Linked DNA regions of Homo sapiens: region 1 is linked to region 2. The links come from fine-mapping of genetic effects on gene expression. Tissue or cell type: whole blood. Region 2 holds a variant in brackets; the other region holds the start of a gene. All regions are shown on one strand. Distances are from middle to middle.

Region 1 (10,605 bases), 32 kb after region 2:
CTTGAACCTGGGAGGCAGAGGCTGCAGTGAGCCGAGATCGCGCCACTGCACTCCAGCCTGGGCATCAGAGCGAGACTCCACCTCAAAAAAAAAAAAAAAAAAAAAGCAATGAATAATACATGTTTGCCCACTAAAGAACAAGTTCCACGAGGGCAGGGACCCTGTCTACTTGCTCAATACAGAAGTCCCAAGGCCCAGCAACAGACTCGGGATGAGACTGGTTGCCAAGAAATCTTTGCTTAACTCACTGCTACCAAATGACAACTTGTCTCTGTGTTACCAGTACCCAGCACGCATGGTGCCCGGGACTGCATGCACACATCTCAAGCAGTTTCTGAAGACACAGAGGAGAAACACTGCCTTAGTCATTCATGTTTGGTTACAAGATCTACTGAAATACCTGCCTCCAAACAGCAGCAGACTGTCTCTTCAGAGACTTCTGCGGTGCCAAGCCCTGGGGTTTCAAGAAGAAAGCAAAAAATGATTTCCTTTCCTTAACCAAAACACTACATTTTACTTGGGGCGCAGCAGTCTTTACTGCTGCACTCCCATCTCCTCCACCCTTCTTTTCTGGGCAGTTCATTAGCATACGACTCAATGAGGCTAACTTCTTAATCCAGTACATATTAAAAGATCTTGTCATCTTGTCAATAAGGCACTTCCCTCTCTACCTATTTCATATTGCAACCACCAAAGTCCCTACTCCTCTGCACTGTTTTTCAAAAGCACCTGCCACCATTGAACTTGTTCGTCTGTCTCCCATAGCAGAAACAAGGACAAAGACTTCTGTTTTATTCTGCGGGAGGCCCCAGTACCTAGAACTGTGCCCAGTACATAGAAGATGCTCATGAATAAGTAAACAGATGCAAATCACTGAAAGCTACTTTTCGGTAACTGAGTAAACAAGTACTATTTTAATTATTATACTTAAAACCTTTGCACATAAAAGTGCACAGTCATTCTTTCTACCACAAATTAAACAGAAATTATCTCATCTTGTTTTTGAACAGGCTTTTCCAGATAATGCACAGCGCATTTTTAAAAGTCCCAAGGACATGAAATGAACATACATTTCGTTTTTAACAGTTAACAGGGGATACTTGTAAGAAACTTAAGGTTACACAGGAAGTGGTCAAAATCAAAAAGTAAAGATCACAAAGTGATCTTTCGTTGTTTTCATACTATAAAAACACAATGCCTCTGTTACTAAATGCAAAATGTAAAGCTCTGGCAAACAAAGTAAAGCAACCCTGTTCTCTCTTAAGAGGGCAGGGTGGAAAACCAATGACTGCCAGATGAAAACTAATTTATATCACCACAAACTATTTCTTAAAAATTTCATTAGCAGCCAAATACAAAATTATTTACTATCTACCTACTGATAAGGGTTTTCCATTACTATATGCTCAAAGACAAACCTTACAACTATAGTTTCGGGAGGCATAAATTTGCTTACCTCAGGAGGTCCCACAAAAATTCAGCTGAGGCCAGGTAACAGCAGTTTCCTGCAGAGATCAGCTACTTCCTATCACCATAGTGGTCGAAGAATCAAACGAAGTAATATCAGATTTCTACTCTGGAAGCCTAAAACACTTTTCCCTTTAAGCAAAAAAGCAAGCATTCCTTAGCTAGCAATCTCAGGCCAAACTCCCAACAAGCTCATCTCTGCTGTCTTATTCAAATATAAACCATCATGGTTTCAAGCAGTAACAGCACTCGCCTATTTCACACAGCTGACGCCTCTTAGGCCGTCAGGAATTTAAATCACCTTCTTGCCCACAAAGTATTTTTCTTCCAAAACAAACTGAAAAATATAGGCTCTTTGGCAACATTTTTGGAAGTACAACATAAACTTATCACAATAATTTTTAAACTGCAGACAACTAAAGGGAAGGAAGAAAAGCACTACTATATATACATACATATTTGAGGTCACCTCCTCCTGATGCTAGAGACTATCAACTGCTCAAAAGAAGGAAAACAAAATAAAGATTTCAGTCCCCACACTTAGCTGCGAATAGCTAACAAAGGGAATTAACATGCGGTCAATAACAAGAGGCTACTAAAAACTCTGACAGGTTAGGAAGTTTTCATTTCAGTTTCAAATTCAAATTCATACTGTAAAGTGGTGATGAACACATCCCATCCGCAGGTACTTAACCTCCATACAAATAAGAACTACCTCTCATATGGGCAAAAAGATCAAAATTCTACAGAAGAATCTGATGGCTAAATGGCTAATTTGCAAAACACAATGCCCTGTACATTTTGAGGACATCCTAAAACATGTGTAAACTTTTCAGAATTCAGTTTACCAAAGTTATCAAACTTAAAAATGATTAAAATTTATTTGCTACTGCAAAGAATTCAACCAATTTCTCCAATGACTACTCCATATTCATTTTGAAAAACAGTACCGGATTTAAAGCTTACACAACAAAATTCACAAAAGTGTTATATGTGCCTATATGACATATAGGCACAAATAACTGCAGACATTCTGAAGCTAACACTGCTCAACCAGGAAAAAAAAAAGACTGCAATTGGATATGTAATAACAGCTATTTAAGACGGCAGTAACGTGTTAAAATGGTTCATAAAAATCACATCATAAGGCCCTGAAATTCTAGTAAAAATATCTCTAAGTAAACTTGTGAACTACTACTAAATAACTAATTTTCTCTCTCTCTGTAGTCACTCATTTTATCTTTGGATTACTTTCCCATTCTATCACCACGTTGCTTTCTCTGAACTTCATTTTACATTTGCATATTATTTATTCCATTAGCAATTGCTCATCCCAGTCTGAATCTCAAAATTCTACTATAGGAGGCATTTGGCATTCTGTGGAATAAGAGAATTTTGAGATGGAAATGATCAACCAGCTCAAAACCTCGTAAGCTAGAGTTCAGTTAAGCTTAGCACAATGATGAAAACAATTTCTCATTAAAACTTCTTTCATTCCCTCTACAGAAGCAGTAACCCTGGGTACAGTTAAAACTGCCTGGGTCTTTAAGCTTTGTCACCTCGGACAAGTCATTATACCTAACCTCCCAGGGCCTCAGCTTCCAGAGTAGTTAAATGGAAAAACAATAGCATCTATCTCAGGTTATTAGATTATGAAATGAGTTAACACACGCAAACAGGCTGAAAGAGTCCCTGGTGCGCAGTGCAGGTATTAGTCATTTAGAGGTATAGTTACTATTACAGGAAGGTAGTAACTTAGAAAGACTTACCTTTAAGGTCCAACAACCTAATCTACATATTTGTATATTTCTAAGGTAAGAGAATTTTTAAAAGTCTATTTTCACCCCGTAAACCTAATGCAGGAGGATAAGGCACGGGTTACTACAGGAAAAAGTAATGCAGACTGGGGGATGCGAACCAAAGCACAGACGAATGTGCCCCGACGATTCCTCCGAGAACATAATGAAATGGCGGACCTTCCTGCCAGAGGAGCGCACAGTCACCCAGGCAGGTGATGTGACACACACGTTAGGGTCTAAAGGTCCCAAGGCTGGAGTCCCCTTTACTGGACCCTAAACATGTCTGCCTCCTGCCCCGCAATCAGACTTAGAGAACTGTGGACGGTGGAAAGTCTTATCATGACCAGGCCATCCTTCGCTGGGGTGAACGGAAAGCATTCAGAAGGGGAAAATTGAAAACAACAAAGACTCTGGTCAGGTCAAAAAATACAAATGTGACCTCTTCCACCATCTCTGAACTGAAAGAAAAGCATGGCACTTTCCCATCCATAACATGTACAATTTTTTTTTTTGGAGATTTTGCTTTTCCCTTGTGAAAGACGGTTTTAAATAGTAAACAGACTTGCTGCCCACCTTGGCTGGGAAACCAAGTCCCGTGAGTAACTAGTCTAAGGCCACTCAGGCCAGTCCTCGGGGAGCGCACGCCGCCCAGCTCGCTCCCACCGCACAGCTCCCAACAGCTAAGAAGCAACGCCAAGGACTTTCTTCCCCGTCAGACATGCCCTCGGCCACACCAAACTGACATCAAAACCCCAGTTAGCCCAGCCTGACCCCACAGAGGCTCACGATGACAACCGCCCTACGGAAAAACTCAAATTCCTAAACATCTAATAAAGAAGTCCTGGACGTCTCCACCTTAAAAACGGGAAGCCTGAACGCTCCGGCGCGCCCGGCCGTGTAACCGCCACAGCCCCCGCACGCGGGGCGGGCTGGGCTAGCGGGAGATTTGAGCGGCCGCCGCCTCTCGCCGTCTTCGCCTCCTCCAAGGGGCCGCCGCCCAGGAGGCCGCCCGCGGCGCAGAACAAAGCGCCTTGACCTTCAGTGAGGCGGGCAGCCGGGCGAGGCGCGCCGGGAGTTGGGAGGGGCCTCCCGCCAGCGCCCCAGGCCCGGGCTCCAGGCCCCAAGCCCCAGGCCCCGCCGCGGCCGCCGCTGCCTGCCCCGACCAGAACGCGGCCCCGCCCCTGCCCCACCGCCCCGAGGCTTCCAGAGATGGCCGCCGCCGCGCCCGCGCCGGACCCGCGGCCCCACCCGCCCGTCCGGGCCCGGCCGCCCTCCCCAGCGCGCCGTTACCGGCCCAGCACCCGTGTCTCCGCACCTCACGCCTCCTGCGGCAGTGGCGGCGACCCTAGCTTCGCTCGCTTTGGGGCTGCGCCGCCGTGGCCTCCAACAACGCCGGCTCCCATTGGCCGAGGCTCCTAGCTCCTCTCTCCGCGAGCAAGACAGGCTGCGATTCGCCGAGCGCGGCGCAAGTCAACTGCGCTTCGCGCCGCAGTCAGCAACCAATCACAAGCCTCCGAAGAAACGCCGCGCCATATGCAAATATTCCTCCGCGCGGCGCGCGCCCTGCGTTCCTCCGCCTCTTTAAATGGGGCGGGGCAAGGTGGAGACCGCGTGTGTGGTTCCGGGGGGTCCCGGGTCCCCGCTCCCGGGACCTTCCCCGGGTGGCACCACATCCTCGCGGGACACTGGGCACCACCCCTCTCCGTGGGCCCCGGCCCCAGCCGTCTTTATCTCCTGCGCCCTCCCAGTTCCCTAGTTCAATCCCGTCCGCGGCGGGTCGGTGCCTCCAGCACTCCGTGCGCCCGCTGATGTGAGAACCCCACCTCCCATGTCGTCCCCTCGCGCTACTCCTTGAGAACATCGCGGAGGGCCCCTCCGCCTGGGAGCCGTTTTCAACCAGCCCCGTTAGTGGTTGGGACGTAAGCCTAACCCCCGCTCATCCCCCAGGTCCCAGGTTGGAGAACACTTCCTCTGCGAAGAGGTCGGGGCTGGGTCACCTCCGCGGACAGGACGGGACTAGCCACTGCCTGCATCTCTTCCCCCACGCCCTGAGCCCCGCAGTGTCCCAGCAGCCTAGTTCTGGCCTGCGGGAGACCCTGTCGGACAAGGAGGAAAAGCAGTGCGCACTGGGCCCTCAGATCAGCCCCCTGAAGCAGAGCAGGGCAGAGGGCTGGGGAGGAGCTGGCCTGTTTCGCCCGCCCTGTTCTCCCTCTCATGGTGCCCTCTGGGCTGGGGTGAAGGTACCAGCCCCAGCCTGTGCACATCACATTTTGTAGAAAGGCATCCAATTTGATTGGAAAATAACCCCTACGCTGGGACTTTTGAGGCTGGTTCATTTCCATGTTCAACCGTGCCATTGGGGGTCTTCAAGTCTAATGTGCATTTTTTTCAGAAACGTTCTCTTTTGGGATGACGTTACTTTTGAAACAATTGCTAATTATTATTATTATTAGCAAGTTATTCCTGTAATGGGGAAAATTTGAAACCATTTAAAGGCTCCTGGTTGAGGGATTAAGAACATAGCGTCGGTTATAAACCTCAGAGGTAAGCTGGGAGGCTGAGGCAGGAGGATTCCTTGAGCCCAGAAATTCAAGTCCAGCCTGGGCAACATAGTGAAACCTCATCTCTAAAAAGAAATTAATGCGGAGCGCCGTGGCTCAGGCCTGTAAACCCAGCACTCTGGGAGGCAGAGGCAACAAGTCCAGCCTGGGCAACATAGAGCACCCTTCCCCTGCTCCAAAAACAACAACAACAAAAAATTACCCAGGCGTGGTGGCTCAGGCCTGTAATACCAGCTACTTGGGAGGCTGAGGTGGGAGAATTACCTGAGCCCGTGAGGTCAAGGCTGCAGTGAGCAGAGATTGGGCCACTGCACTCCAGCCTGGGTAACCAGAGGGGGACATTGTCTCAAAAAGACAAAAAAAAGGCCGGGCGCGGTGGCTCAAGCCTGTAATCCCAGCACTTTGGGAGGCCGAGGTGGGCCGATCACGATGTCAGGAGATCGAGACCATCCTGGCTAACACGGTGAAACCCCGTCTCTACTAAAAATACAAAAAAATTAGCCGTGCATTGTGGCGGACGCCCTAGTCCCAGCTACTCGGGAGGCTGAGGCAGGAGAATGGCGTGAACCCGGGAGGCGGAGCTTACAGTGTGAGCCGAGATCGCACCACTGCACTCCAGCCTGGGCGACAGAGCGAGACTCCATCTCAAAAAATAAAAAATAAAAAAAAAACTAATTAAAACAAAAAACATAAAAACCCCTCAGAGGTGACCGGTGCATGGCTGAGGCCTGACCCACACAGCGTGCTCAGTCCTGTCTGGCCATCTGTGTTTTAGGAGAGGGTGTGTGTGCTCTCAATTCCTATTTTACTTATTTAGACTTTCAGACTTTTCTACAAAGGTCATGCTTTATGCTTTGCGGAAGCATAAACAATGATAGAAATGACACAAGAACCTGGGCATTTGAAGTTTGGAGGGTCCTTCCTCCCATCTAATAAAGTCTCAAGACCATTTGCAGTAATGGGATCCCCCTGCTCCTGGATGTTGGGGTTGGTGGGGGTGGCATCCGGGTGGGTGGATCCTCTGAGGGAGCTGGGCCTTGGGGCTGGGGGCAGCTGGACCTGCTCCCTGGGAGATCTGCTGGAACTGGAATGATTGTGGTGGTGGTGTTTTTCTCTTGGTGGTTGGTGGTTTCTCTCCTTGGAAGATTCTCATTTGGAAATAGAGTCTTCACAGATGCAATTAGGTAATGAGGTCGAGTGGGCAGATTGCTTGAGCCCAAGAGTTCGAGACCAGCCTGGGCAACATGATGAGATCCCATCTCTACCAAATATCTAAAAATTAGCTAGGCATGGTGGTGCATCTATAGTCCCAGCTGCTTGAGAGGCTGAGGTGGGAGGATCACTTGTGCCTGGGATTTAGAGGCTGCAGTGAGCTGTGATCATGCCACTGCACTCCAGCCTGGGTGACAGAGCAAGACCAAGACCCTGTGTCAAAACAAAGAAGTCCCCAGATGACACTGACATGCAGCCAGAGCTGAGGGCCACTGGGATCAGGACTCCCAGGGTAGCTGGCGCTTGGTGAGTTTCATTCCTGTTTTCCCAGCGCTGCCTCTGCCAGGCCTCAGGCATGAGCCCACCTGTCTACAACCCCTCTGCTGCCTCAGCCTCCTCCAACCTGGAGATCAAGAGTCCCCTCCAGAGGCTACCTTGCCTGTAGTTCTGCTCTTGGCTGCCTTGTCCTCACTGAGGCTCCGGGAGACAGTCCCGGACAGACACCACGTGTTTCTTCTTCACATTGCCAGCACCCGGAAAAGTGCCTGGCACTTGGCGAGCTGTGCCCTTACCTGGGCGCTACTGACAATGGCTACACCTTGGCCTGGAAGTAGAGGCAGCAATCACTGCCCCATTCAACAGAGGAGAAAACAGAGAAACCCCTCTAACGCCCCCAGCTAAGTGGCTCTGGCCCTGGAGGGGGCGGCCATGCCCTTCACCTGTGGTGGGGGCGCTACTCCTCAAAAGACCTCGCAGCCGCCAAGAGCTGGAGCCGAGGCCTCAGAAATGCCCAAAGCCCCCTCAGTAGGCTGGGGGCTCAGCCTGTGGGGCATTAACAAAGTGGGGCCCTGGAGACATCCAAGAGAGGTGGCTGGTTTCTCCTGGTATATGGAGAACAGAAAACACCCATGGCGTACTCCACACAAGAGGGGTGCGCAGACAGGGAGTGCCTTTGCAAGCTTCCCGGCCTCAGAAAGAAGGCATCTGGAAGACTGTACCCCAAATGTTGTAGGGATTTGAGAGGTAGGGCACGGGGTCTTTCAGTTTCTACTTTATATTGGAAGTTTTCCGTATTATTTATTTTTAAATAATGAATACATGACGTTTTTATAGTAAAGACACCAAAGATTGCTCTTTGGGGAAAAACAGGAAGATGTAAATCTGGCTCTTACAGCTGAACAGAGCTTTCATGTACAGAAAAGAAACACTTTCCACAGGCAAACTAATATTATACAAGAAAAGTGTCCACCCCACGTTGTTCCAGAAGGATCTGCTGCAGCCTGACAGCAAGAGATTGCAGGGTAGGGAGGTGCTGGGGTCCTCTTGGGGGCCAAGCCAATGGCCTGGGCCCAGCCAGCCTATTGTCACTGCAGGCCCTCGGACCCAGCCTGGGGAGACTGGAGGAAGTCAGGGAAGGGCAGAGAGAAGGCGCACCGGGCAGTGGGCCCTCAGAACGGGGAAACTCCAGGCAGAAAAGCGGCCCAGAATCACTCTGAATTGGGGGGCGTGAAACAGGGGCCACAGCCTGGCCCTACTGCAGTCCAGGTGGAGCCAGGCCTTCACCAGCTGTGGGGACCAGGCGTGCCCCTGGCAATCTGGATACGTTTTTGTGCAGCCACCACTGGAAATGGGGCACACGCCACTCCTTCTTGCCTCCTTGGATGGCACCGCGGCTTTGGGCCAACCTCCGCTCACCCCAGTGGTGGCAGCTAAAGACAAGGGTATTTCCTCATGGCCCAGTTGTCAGGATATTTGATACATGGTTTCCAGCACAGGCCAGTAAAGAGGATACACTGTGGAAGGGATTGCTGCTGCTGCAGTGCCGGCTGCACTTCATCAGTTTCCTTGGCTAAAGGATACTGAGTTACAGGTTTCAGGCTACTTTGTATCTCATTAAAGACACCTCTCCATGCAGCCGCCATTATCACACTAACAAAATTAGCAAAAATCTTGACTGTCATCCAATACCTGGTCATTCAAATTTCTTGAAATTTTTTTTTTTTTTTTTTTTTTGAGACGGAGTTTCGCTCTTGTTGCCCAGGCTGGAGTGCAATGGCGAGATCTCGGCTCACCGCAACCTCCACCTCCCGGGTTCGAGCGATTCTCCCGCCTCAGCCTCCGGAGTAGCTGGCATGTGCCACCATGCCCAACTAATTTTTTTGTATTTTTAGTAGAGACAGGGTTTCTCCATGTTGGTCAAGCTAGTCTTGAACTCTCCACCTCAGGTGATCCGCCTGCCTCAGCCTCCCAAAGTGCTGGGATTACAGGCATGAGCCACTGTGCCCGACCCCCTTTGAAATGTCTTTACAGCAGGTTTGTTCAAATCCTTCAAAGATTATCCCTCAAACCTGGTGGTTTTGTTTCTCGAGTCTCTCCCAGTCCTTCTCTTCTGCCCTATTCTGCTCCCTTTGACGCAGACGTATTGAAGATGCCAGCCGGGCATCTGGCAGAATGCCCCACCTTCTGCACAAATGTGGTGGCTGCTTCATGGCCTCACCTGCATTCTCCCTCTGTTCCCAGTATTTCCTGCAGACAGGAAGTGAGCTGGACAGCCTTGCTCCTGAGGGGGCTGTAGCCCGGCAGCACAGGCCACAGCTGGGAGACTGCAGGAATGCAGAATCTTGGGCTCCTCCTAGACCTGAACTGAAATTTGTGTTAACAAGCAACCCTGGGCAGTTTATACGCACATTCAAGGTTAAGGAGCCCTAGCCTAAAAGCTGCATTCAATACTGACTTATACTTTTAGAGGAAATCCTTCTTTTTGTTGGGGGGCTGACAGCCAGGGCCCAACATCAGAAAGTAACACGTATCCCCTCCTGGAAACCTACAAGTTACTCACAAGGTGACACTTTGGCATCAAATTATCCAGCACCTACCAGCTTTCATCCAGGGGTCTCAGCATCCGCGGTCAGCCCCTGCCTGAATCAATGACTTCATTCGGGGTTGCAGAATGGAGATGTCTGATCCTGGTGCTTCTTCCCTTAGCTGGCATCTTTGGGGGAAAGAACAACTTTCCCCTTTCAGCTAGGGCCATTTGGTGGCCCTGAAATATACTTCCCATGCAAGGTAAAATACTTGCTTCTGTCACTAATGAGTAACTCTACAGAAAGGAGCTGACACAGGCCACCTCCAGTAACGACAATATGTTTTAGCTTTCTCTAGTTTTGAGAATAAATACAGATGCCTGGAGTTTTTTTTTTGTTTGTTTGTTTTTGTTTTTTGTTTTGAGACAGAGTCTTGCTCTGCCATCCAGACTGGAGTGCAGTGGTATGATCGCAGCTCACTTGCAGCCTCCACCTCCCATGCTCAGGCAATCCTCCAACCTCAGCCTCCTGAGTAGCTGGGATCACAAGTGCGCCACTACACCGGCTAATTTTTTTGACTTTTAGTAGAGACAGGGTCTCGCTATGTTGCCCTGGCTGGAATCATTCTTTTCAATGCTCAAATTGTCCCAAACTTAGCCAGTAGGAGCTCCTGAAGCCTTAAAGTAATTATAGGTTTCCAGAAAACTGCACAGTTTGTTTCCTGATGGTCACACCTTGCCTGGCCAGAGTTCAAGATCAACA
Region 2 (10,605 bases):
ATTTATTATTTTATCTTTTGAGACGGAGTCTTGCTCTGTCGCCCAATGGAATACGGTGGTGCAATCTCAGCTCACTGCAACCTCCTCCTCTCGGGTTCAAGTGATTCTCCTGCTTGAGCCTCCTGAGTAGCTGAGATTACAGGCGCTGCCACCGTGTCCAACTAATTTTTTTTTTTTTTGGTATTTTAAGCAGAAACGGGGTTTCACCATGTTGACCAGACTGGTCTTGAACTCCTGACCTCTGGTGATCCACCCACCTTGGCCTCCCACAGTGCTGGTATTACGGGCGTGAACCACCATGTTCGGCTGGCTAATTTATTTGGTTTTAATTTTTTGTGGAGATGGGGTTGTGCTATGTTGCCCAGGCTGGTCTCAAACTCCTGGACTCGTGCAGTCCTCCCACCTCAGCCTCCCAAAGCATTAAGATCACTGGCATACCCAGTCCACACACAGCCAGGACTGGACTTTTTTTAACAAGTAGACAAGTAGACATTCACTCAGGAGAGACTTCAACAGGAAAATAAGACTATTAACAACAAATCTTACCAGTGATTCTCCATCCCCGGATGCTAGAAAAAGAAAAGACAAAACATATTTAAATTACAGTGACAACTCCCAGAATTTTAAAGCCCACACAGGAGGAAGCTGTGCTGGTAGATAAAATGTAACATTTCTCACCTCGAGGTTTAACAGAAATCCCCAAAGCCTTGCATCTCCTCACAGACATCTTTGCAAGCTCCATCCACCACTTCTGAAGCTGGCCTGAGTGCCTCTATGCCCCCCTCCCTTCTCCTCCTCCATCATGTGCCATGGGCTGGCACTCAAGCTTGAGAAGATCATTTTGAGAGAGTTAATATATTAACAGGAGGAATGGCAAACAGCCCCCAGGCTGTGGCCATTCAGTGCATTTGTGCTTTATGGGGAAACTTAACTCATGTCCCGCAGAACTATACATGATGGTGCAGGAAAGAGAAAGTCCTTAAGCCTTATAAGCTGTGAGTGTTACTAAGGCACTGCAAATCAGCGAGACAGAAACTGCATTTCTGTTTGTTTGGAGAGTGCTGGAATGCCCACCAGGGGCCCCTGTAGAGTGGCGCAATTCCTCAGCGAAAGCTGATGCTCAGACGAGCTAAGCCCACCAAGACAGATAGGGACTTCTAACCACACTCAATGAAGCTGTGCAACGTTCAACTGGTAGAAGATCCAACCCCCTGATTTTAGAAACATTTACTACAAGACCCTGAGCTTCATCAGGAGTTGAATGTTTACTCTGCTTAGTCTCATACCTGCCTTTTCAATCTTCACTGGGCTCTCCTCTCTGAGTCTCCCTTCCCATTAAGCGACCACAACCCTGGCAGCACTTGCTGTTTGCTGCTGAGACATGAATGTTGGGTGCGTAAACACCACCCATGAGTGAGGCAGAGTTCCCAAGCCTCGGTGTGCCAGCATCACCCAGGGGTTTTAGACATGGGTTAGGAGCATGGCTGGGTGTCTAAATGCTGGAGCAGCATGCTCCCCAGGGCACTCTGGCCCAAGTCATGAATAGTACAAGGACTCTGAACACTCATACTTCTGGACTGGCTTTGCAGTTTTAAGGACAAAGGAGCTGGACTCACTAGCTAATGCCTCCTTCACTTCACACCACAGGAGTCCATTTTGTCTGTTCCTTCACTACCCCATTACCTATTCCGCAGCCATCCTCAATTTTTTTCAAAGCACTTACCATTTGGTATTATGTGTTTGATTACTTTAAAAGTGGCTTTACTGATGGGATTTACATACCATTAAAAGGCATACACTCTAAATGTACAACTTTATGACTTTCAGTACGTTAATTTTAGAGTTGTGCAACCATCATACCCTAAAAGTTTTAGAATCTAAAAAAAAAAACACTTAAAAATTCCCTTGAGTCCATTATCAACTCCATTTTTATCCTAAAAATTATTTTTAAATCAGTTTTAAGAGAACTTCCTACACAAAGTGATTCCAGAAATTAAAGCCTCCCTTCTTCACGCTGAATTCACAGACAATCTCCAGTATGCCCAACCCAAGTGTCTAAAAGGAATCTTCCAAAAAAAGGAAATGTAATATCTAAATTTATGACTGCTCTCATTCCCCAAACCGTATGTATTTGCATCTTCTAGGTTCAAAGTCTAATTGCAGAAAATAGGCACCACAATTAAAATAATGGACTGAACTCTGAAGGGCAGCTTGATAAATAAGGGTGCTAAGCTCAGAGACAAAATCAAAAAATCAATCACTCAGACTGGAGAAGAGATCCGCCCTGTGGCCCCACATACAAACAAACACTCACTGATTATCTGCAGCAGGGGCTGGCATCTCTTCACTTCAAATTATGTTTTAGTTCATGGAAACTAAAGAGAATATGGATATTTTAACACTGACAAGTTGCTTGACCTTCACATTTTCTCGCGATTAGGAAATTATATGAAAAATCCCAAGAAATTTACTCTTAAAATCAATTGGTCAACCTTTACTAGCTCAAAGGTCTCATCTTTATTTTACCACTTAGGAAAATTTAAAAAATAAATAAATAAACAAAAAGAAGCAGCTTCCAAGCTGTGATTCTGCCGATGTTTTTCAAAAATGAAAGTCCCAACTACTTGTGTTTCTTACAATATATAAATTCCAAAAAATTCTATCAAATTATGCATAAAAAATTACAAGAAAAGGGGGACTAAGCAGATGATCCAAAAGCAGCACAACTAGAACCAGCGTACAGCAGTAACGGGTACCTGCAGAGCAAACCCAGCAGCTCTCCGAGGCTGGGAGTGGTCCCCGGGGGGTGCGAACCAGACACAACAGCGGGGCAGAAATGCCAGCTGGTGGAGAAGGGTGCTCCAGGTGTCCAAGTGAGGAAGCAGCCCAGGTGCAAATACTCGATTCAGTTTTCTTAAAACAGAACTGCAAGTTTTTGCCTGGGCTACAGCCAAGCAGAGTAAAGCTCTTCCCTTTCCTGCAGAAGATGACAATCCTACTCTTACTGTCCTAGCTACCTCTGCCCCCCGCGATAAACTTGCCAGCGCACCAACAGAACAGCCTGGGACACAGCAATGTGCCCCTACTGACCACACTTGCCTGAAAAAAGAGGACTAAAGTCTCTGGGTGTTAGGAATCTATCAGGTGACCAAAATTATTTTATATAAGAACATAATGAATATTAACAACCAACAGACTTGCCTTTCAATGGATTGAAGAAGTTGAAAAAGGACTCATTGGGTACTTGTTTCGTAATTGTTCTAACAGTGCCTCGACCCTTATGCTTCTGCTTTTTCTTGATGGTTTTGACAGTAACATTCTTTCCTTTCTTCCAGTCAATAGTACACCTACCAGGACAAGACAGCTGTCAGGAACACACAATCCATGAGAAAAATCCATTACAAATGCATGCAGGAAGCAAACCACAGCTCTATGCCAAACCTGGAAAACGAAATAAAACCAATCTGCAAACCAAATACAATGGCCCATGAAGTTCATCTGGAGGTTGGCAAAAAGAGAAACAGCCTGGTCCTCTTTCAACTTGGGTGTGACCACTGGAACTTCAGACTTCTGGAACAATGGTATTATTTTCCCAAGACATTTCATCAGGACTCTGAAATGTATATTCTGTGGCAAAGCCCCGTCAAGTCTGCATGATGCACAAGAACTTGTCCGCGGTTTCCCAAGGAAGGAGGAGTTGCTGCTGTTCAAAGCAGCCAACTGAGCACGACAAGCTGAAAAAAGGAAAGAGGTGGCCACCGGGAATACTGATGGCCAGTGCAGACCACTCCAGCCCCAGGGATGCTGGCGAGGGCTGAGCACAGCACGCTCTCTCTAACACACAATCACCACAGACCCAGGCAACACCTGGCAGATCTCAATACTGCCCGCTTAAGAACATGCTTGGTAAGGCCAGGCCTTTTTCTCACATGATGTCCTGGCCCTGGAAAATCATCTTTCTAAATTACTCTAGCAGGATTTTAATAAAGTCCTGAATTAACAATTACTATTTACTTCTGGTAAATAAACGTAATTGTTTCAAGTCAAGACTAAAACCATTTCTCAGTCAACCCAACCTGGAGAAATTAATTCTAAACCAAATTCTCTCTTTAGTGATTTATAAAGACTGAAATCAGTGAGTCAAACAACAGCTATGCTGCCCCCACCTATTTCCAAAGCAATCAGCTGATCAATATAGCCCTGGACTCAGACTCATTCATTCAATAAGTATTTATTTGCTGAGGGTAATCCATGGATTCAATTTTAAGAACTTCAATTCACGATGTCTAGAGAATCCACTACTTTCATTAAAATGAAGAAACAGGGCACTATCCCAAAGGCTTGCATGTGCAACCACGTGACTCATTTCCCAGGTTCAGCCGCCATCTCCAAGTTCTGCACTATGAGCATTCCCAAACTGAAAGACTATTGAAATATACATCTACCAGGCTTTTAGGCTTTTAAGCAGACTCAAGACTGTACTTTATTCCTTACTTCTATCTTACCCATCAAGTTACAAAATTATCTTTTGATTTTGTTTCAGAAAAACAAGGTAGAATGACATTTTCTTACCCGTCACAGTCCACAATCTCAGGACCTTCAAAGGAAAAGGGATCAGCCTTATCTGGTTCTGATTTCATCTTGTAGGTTTTTGTCAGGACTGAGTTGGTAAAGTAGTCGTTGGGTTCAAAGTGGAACTCTAACACAAAAGACTAAAAGTAGAAATTCAGAGTAAGCACCAGTTAAAATAGAAAAATAACGAGGACAGATTGCTTGGAGTACACAACACTTACTAGAAGCTATTTTGGGAAAGCTCAACAGATAGGGCCATGAACAAGAAAAACTTCTCCACCGCAAAAAAGACTAGCGTGAGGTTAAAAAAACCAACGATGGACTGGCGGGAAATATCTGTTCAGTTCATGAGTAAGGGGCATGTTCCCCCTCCAATGCCTCCTCACCAATAGGCGTCAAGCTCTCCTAAGAAATCCTAGCTTCTCTTAGCTGCTCCCAGCCCTTGCTTCCTGGAAGGAGGGAAGGTGACTAGGGGAAAGTAAGGGGACCAGCAGTCCATCCTCCTCCTGTCCTTTTCCGCTCAGCCTAAGCCCCAGCCCCCACCCTGCTGGGGGAAGCCAGGGTCTCTACTCTGTGCTGTGCAGTGAAAGCAGTGACCCACAGCTTTTCTCCCGGGAGGTGGGTGGGAGAAAAGGACAAATCTCTACAAGGACAGAAAGCTCATCCCTCACTTACAAAGCACGCTACAGACCTGGAAGAGACGTGAGCACACCGGGAAAAAGGATGCAAACATGAACGCAGGCATAGAACAACCAACAGCAGCAACAAGGCATTCATGCTCACGAGTAACAAAACACATGAACACCAAAATGAGATGCCTTTCTTTGGGGCAAAATGTACAAAAATATGTAGACCCGGCCAGGATTTTGGGGTACTGAGCACACTCATGTACTGTC[G/A]ACAGATTTTATGAAGGACAATTTGGCAATATCAAAAAAAATTAAATTAAAAGGCATATTCCCTGACTCAGTAATTCTATTTTGAGGAATTTGTTCTATTTGAGAAAAATACCTGGATGGATGCATCGATATGTGCAAAGACATTGACCTCATCCCTATTTATAGAAGAAAAACATGGAAGATGCGCTTGGTTGAGTAATTTATAGACAGTTTACAAGACCAGTTCTACGCTCAGACAGCCTGGATTCAAATCCCATCTCTGCCTACACTGCTAGGCAACTCGCGGAAGCTACTCAATGTCTCCGTGCTTTAGTTTCCTCATCTCTACACTGGAAATAACTCTCTCCCTCTCTAGGAGCTGCCTTGGTGGTTAATCTGTATCACTTAGAGCCGCGTTTATAGGCAAGGCTGGCTAAATGTCAGCTGTTTCCATTTTCATTGTAATGGTAAAACCATCAACGGGGGGGAAATTAAGAGGACTAAAAAAAATATACAGCAAAAAAAGTTTATACATTCAAACAAACCACTTGCACAAAGGAGAAGTGAAAAAACAACTTTCAAAGAAAGGTGGAGGAGGAGGCGGGGCATGAGGGCTTAGGAAGTCAGGATCAGGGAGACAGTCTAGTCGGTTTCTAGAAGGGATGACAGCAGGATCTGGCTAGGAGCTCTCCACTGGCCTTGGCAAGAGCAAAGGAAGCGGGTAGGGCACTGCAGATGAACCACACAAACGAAAGGCCAGTCACCTGCCTGGCAAAAATCACAAGGAAAGGAAGAGGCAGCTACAGGGAATCAGCATCAAATAAAATGCCTATTTCTCTCCCAACCCTCCACGGCTTAAAAAAAAAAAAAAAACCAACATAAAGAGGGAAGACAAGTAGCCAACCAATGGAGAGACTGCTATGATTCCAGAACTGTTTAAGGCTGTGACCACAGTGTGGACAACCAACCCAGGGCATGGGGTGGCCCCAATAAAACAAATAGTACTATTAGACTTGTGGTCCTTCACCATGTCCTACTCATTTTTTCCCCTCCTTTTTACTTTCTCTTTTAAAGACCAGTTCTCCCTATGTTGCCCAGGCTGGTCTTGAACTCCTGGGGTCAAGCAATCCTCCCACCTTGGCCTCCTAAAGTGCTGGGATTACAGGCATGAGCTACCACACCCAGCCTACTTTTCTATAGATAGATTCATGTTTCTTCCTATTTTCCTTTTTTCTCTCCCCTCTGCCTTTGTTCAGTCAAGAGTAACCCAAAGACAACTGAAGATGATTCAAGAAACTGTTTAGCTGCCCAAATGAAAAGTGGCTTGAAAATAAGACTGCTTCATTCACACACGCACTACAGCCAGGTAAGCCATAAATATGCTAACCATGCTCAATCTTACAAGCAACTAAAGAAATGCAAAATTAGGCAGGGCCTGAGTGGCTCATGTCTGTAATCCCAACTGAACGACCTTTGGGCCTTCTAAAGCTTCATCTTCTTTGACTGGTAAGTACACTGAAAGGAACCTAAACTAAGGAAACCATCAAACATTTAATTTAACACAAATTTGGGTTCAAGTATGCTGATCATAATGCAACAATTTACAATGGGGGAGGTGGGGCATGTAGGGGAATGTTAAACTGTTTTATAGCCAATGGCTGCAGTAACAACTATTCCCCCAGCCAAGCCTGTGTGATGTGGCAGCAGGGTGACACTGTGCACACACCATGTGGTGTGGCAGGAGCCGTGTGGCACACGTGTGCACTGTGTATCCAGGTAGGCAAGCGCTCAAGGGAAGGGAATGAGGCATGCTGCAAAAACACCAGTCAAGACTCATTTTGAAGTTTCATTTATCTTTATAACTTAAAATGCATTAGACGCTTCATAATAATTTTACAAAGGAAAAAGAGTATGGGGAAATTCACTAAGCTGCTGAGATTTACTTTTAGAAGACAGATTTGTATAGTGTTCTTTACACTTGCCTGTATTTTCTACATATGACTTTTATAATAGGGAAGTAAAAAGAAAAAAAAAAATTACTGGTCCACAGTCTACCATAACCAGAGCTCTAGTCTATGAGTCACAATGAGATGGAGAAAAATAAGATGACAGGCTAAGAAAGAAAGAAAATTGACCTAGGAAATCATCAAACAGGTGTCCAATAAGAAAAAAAGAGGCCGGGTGTGGTGGCTCATGCCTGTAATCCCAGCACTTTGGAAGGCTGAGGCGGGTGGATCACGAGGTCAAGAGATTGAGACCATCCTGGCCAACATGGTGAAACCACGTCTCTACTAAAAATACAAAAATTAGCTGGGCGTGGTGGTGCGTGCCTGTAGTCCCAGCTACTCGGGAGGCTGAGGCAGGAGAATCGCTTGAATCCAGGAGGCAGAGGTTGCAGTGAGCCGAGATCATATCACTGCACTCCAGCCTGGTGACACAGTGAGACTCGGTCTCAAAAAAAAAAAAAAAAAGAAAAAAGAAAAAAAAGGAAGAAAAGAAAAGGAGAAAAAAGAAAGGAAAAAAAAAGGAACTGACCCAAAAGGGAAAAAAAGTTAATTGCGTCTGGATGAATCACAGGTAAGAAAGAAGTACAAAGAAAAAACGCACAGAAACTTAAAGCACCGCACGCTCACACCATGGGGAAGAGAATGCACACCAACGAGGGCAAACTAGGCAGACGTGCCCAGGCGGCTCCTGGGGGCCCTGTGATAAAGTCTAAACAGAAGTGATGCAAGCCCAGGAAGAAGGACCTGCTATAACCCACATGGGGCAAGGAAGATGGGGTATCCCCTCTGGAGGGCAGCCCCCAGCTGGTGAGCAGGCATCACTCCCAGCTCCCAGGGCCCCACCTAGAGAGGGACACCTGAATGTCACCTTCCATAGTGGAAAACAGACAGGAAAAAGTAGAAGAGACAGATACAGGTACATCCACTGCCCACCCCTGCTGCTGCCCCAGGCATTACTTGCAGCACTTGCAGTGAAGAAATCCCACTCCTAGTGGCCCTCATCCATTAGCCCAGGCCCCAGTGCTGAGATGGGGAGGAAGGAAGATACTGGTGACTGGCCCCAGGCCCCTACCACCATCACCCACACCCAAGATCCCTAACCCACAGCCCGTCATGCAGCATTTGTCTCCAAGACCTGAAACTGAAAGCCACCAGTCAGTCAGTCATGTGTCGCTGGAAATGCTATTGCACCGGAATGGAACCCATTAGCTACAGCCAGGCTAACGGGTTACGAACAGTGCTCCCTGGGAGAACCAGGCTGGGATGAGACAGTCTGGCAAGGCCATTTGAAGATGAGCATATGGTTCCTCAGATAAAAGTAAGGGCTGACCTAGTCAAGCTTATCTTACCAACTGGTAGGCTGATCCATGCCACTAACATTACTAATGCAATGATATGCCATGGCAAGCATATTGTAAAGACGTGTTTCAGGACAAATCAAAGAGCAGGAAAACATTTTTCAGTCTTATTTGCGCTTTTTTTTTTAGGGTAAAACCTAGTAGGTTCAGATTTCTGAATAAGTGCTGATCATTATGTGTACATAGCTCCCATCTTTTTAAACGTTAAACATATACATTAGATGCATGCAAACTTCAGAGACACTTGGGAAAAGAATGGTATCATCTCCACCCAACAGAGTAAACAAACAAACTACAAGACCAAGGCCTGGCACAGTGGACAGCACCACTACAGCCCAGGAGTTGCAGCCTGACTCCTGCATTGGTGCCCACCTGGCTGCAGGGTCTGGGGCATCACATGGTCTGCATCACTGTCAAATCATCCAGCACAGACTCACGACTACAGTGCCAAGCATGACACAGAAAGGCAATGGGATCCCCATCGAACTCAGGGAGCAAACACACAATGCGGTACTCAGTCTAACTCTTGGAGAGCAGTCTCGCCCAGGGCTGCCCAGCAGATGAGTGGCTGGGTGTGGGTTTTGTGGGTTTCTTGCCCCTGGCTCCAAGTTCTTCCATCTTTGTGGACTGACCCTGTCTGATGCCAACCAGAAGGTCAAGTCAGTACTCACCATAGGCTGTCCAGGGTCAGAAAATTTCACTTTAATATCCTGCAGGTGTTTCAAGATTGGTTCATCATATTCCTAATCAAAAAGAGAAAAAAAATTCCAACAGGCTTTTAAAAAAACAACACATCTCTCCCGAAGAGTCATGGTTGCAGAGGCTCCCAGATGTTGCATAACTAGCCCTATTGGAATTCTGTCCTTGTCAAAGTAATAACTACCAGGAAGAAACCCAGACTTATTCACCAACTCCCTGTCATAGAGAAGCAGCACCAAGGTGTCCCCTTTCCCTAGTGTGGAGCAACGGTGGCTGCCACTGCCAGCAAAGGGCAGTGCCACTGACACCCGCCTGCCTGCAATACTGGGGCAAGGGCCTTCACTGCTTTCCTGCCACCAGCTGCCACTGCACACAGAGATCAGAAATGCTACCAACCAAGACTGTTGGTCCTCAGCCTCTCTGAGGAGAAAGAGCAGAAGCCTGGAAGTCAGAAGAGAAGGCTAGATCGGCTACGGCCTTGGCAGCCAGCTTCCCCACCTGTGGCAATAAAGTTGTGCATGGCTTAACAATGGGGGCACCTCCTGAGAAACACATTGTTAGGCAATTCGGCGTGTGTTCATCAGAGCATATTTACACAAACCTCGATAGTGCAGCCTACTATCCACTATTGCTCCTACGCTGCAAACCTGAACAGCATGGGACTGTACTGAATACTGGAAGCAGCTGGTGATGGTACTTATTTGTGTATCTAAACACAGAGAAGGTACAGTAAGAATATGGTATCATAATCTTACAGGACCGCCATCCTATATGCAGTCTGTTGTGACCAAAATGTGTTATGTGGCTCATGACTGTATCCAAAACTCACAATACACACAGTCACTTCTTTATTTTTTTTGAGACGGAGTCTGGCTCTGTTGCCCAGACTGGAGTGCAATGGTGTGATCTTGGTCACTGCAAGCTCCGCCTCCCGGATTCAGCCTCCCGAGCAGCTGGGACTACAGGCACCCGCCAACCATGCCCGGCTAATTTTTTGTATTTTTAGTAGAGACGGGGTTTCACCGTGTTAGCCAGGATGGTCTCGATCTCCTGACCTTGTGATCCACCCACCTCGGCCTCCCAAAGTGCTGGGAT

What was found. PIP is the estimated chance that this variant, and not a neighbour inherited with it, causes the effect.
Region 1: it holds the start of NAP1L4, and the variant in region 2 is fine-mapped to the expression of NAP1L4 in whole blood (INTERVAL, PIP above 0.99).

What each region holds. Positions count from the first base shown.
Region 1 is chr11:2,987,673-2,998,277 of GRCh38, forward strand. NAP1L4 (nucleosome assembly protein 1 like 4) reads right to left here and starts at 4,657. Exons shown (of 16, transcript NM_005969.4): 1 at 4,582-4,657. RefSeq lists enhancers at 3,226-4,082, 4,627-4,921.
Region 2 is chr11:2,955,198-2,965,802 of GRCh38, forward strand. It overlaps NAP1L4 (nucleosome assembly protein 1 like 4), which reads right to left. Exons shown (of 16, transcript NM_005969.4): 8 at 9,483-9,554; 9 at 4,573-4,712; 10 at 3,202-3,347; 11 at 547-569. It overlaps SNORA54 (small nucleolar RNA, H/ACA box 54), which reads right to left and starts at 8,696; the gene lies at 8,574-8,696. RefSeq lists enhancers at 5,646-6,152, 9,922-10,421. The variant G/A (reference allele first, on the strand shown) is at 5,469.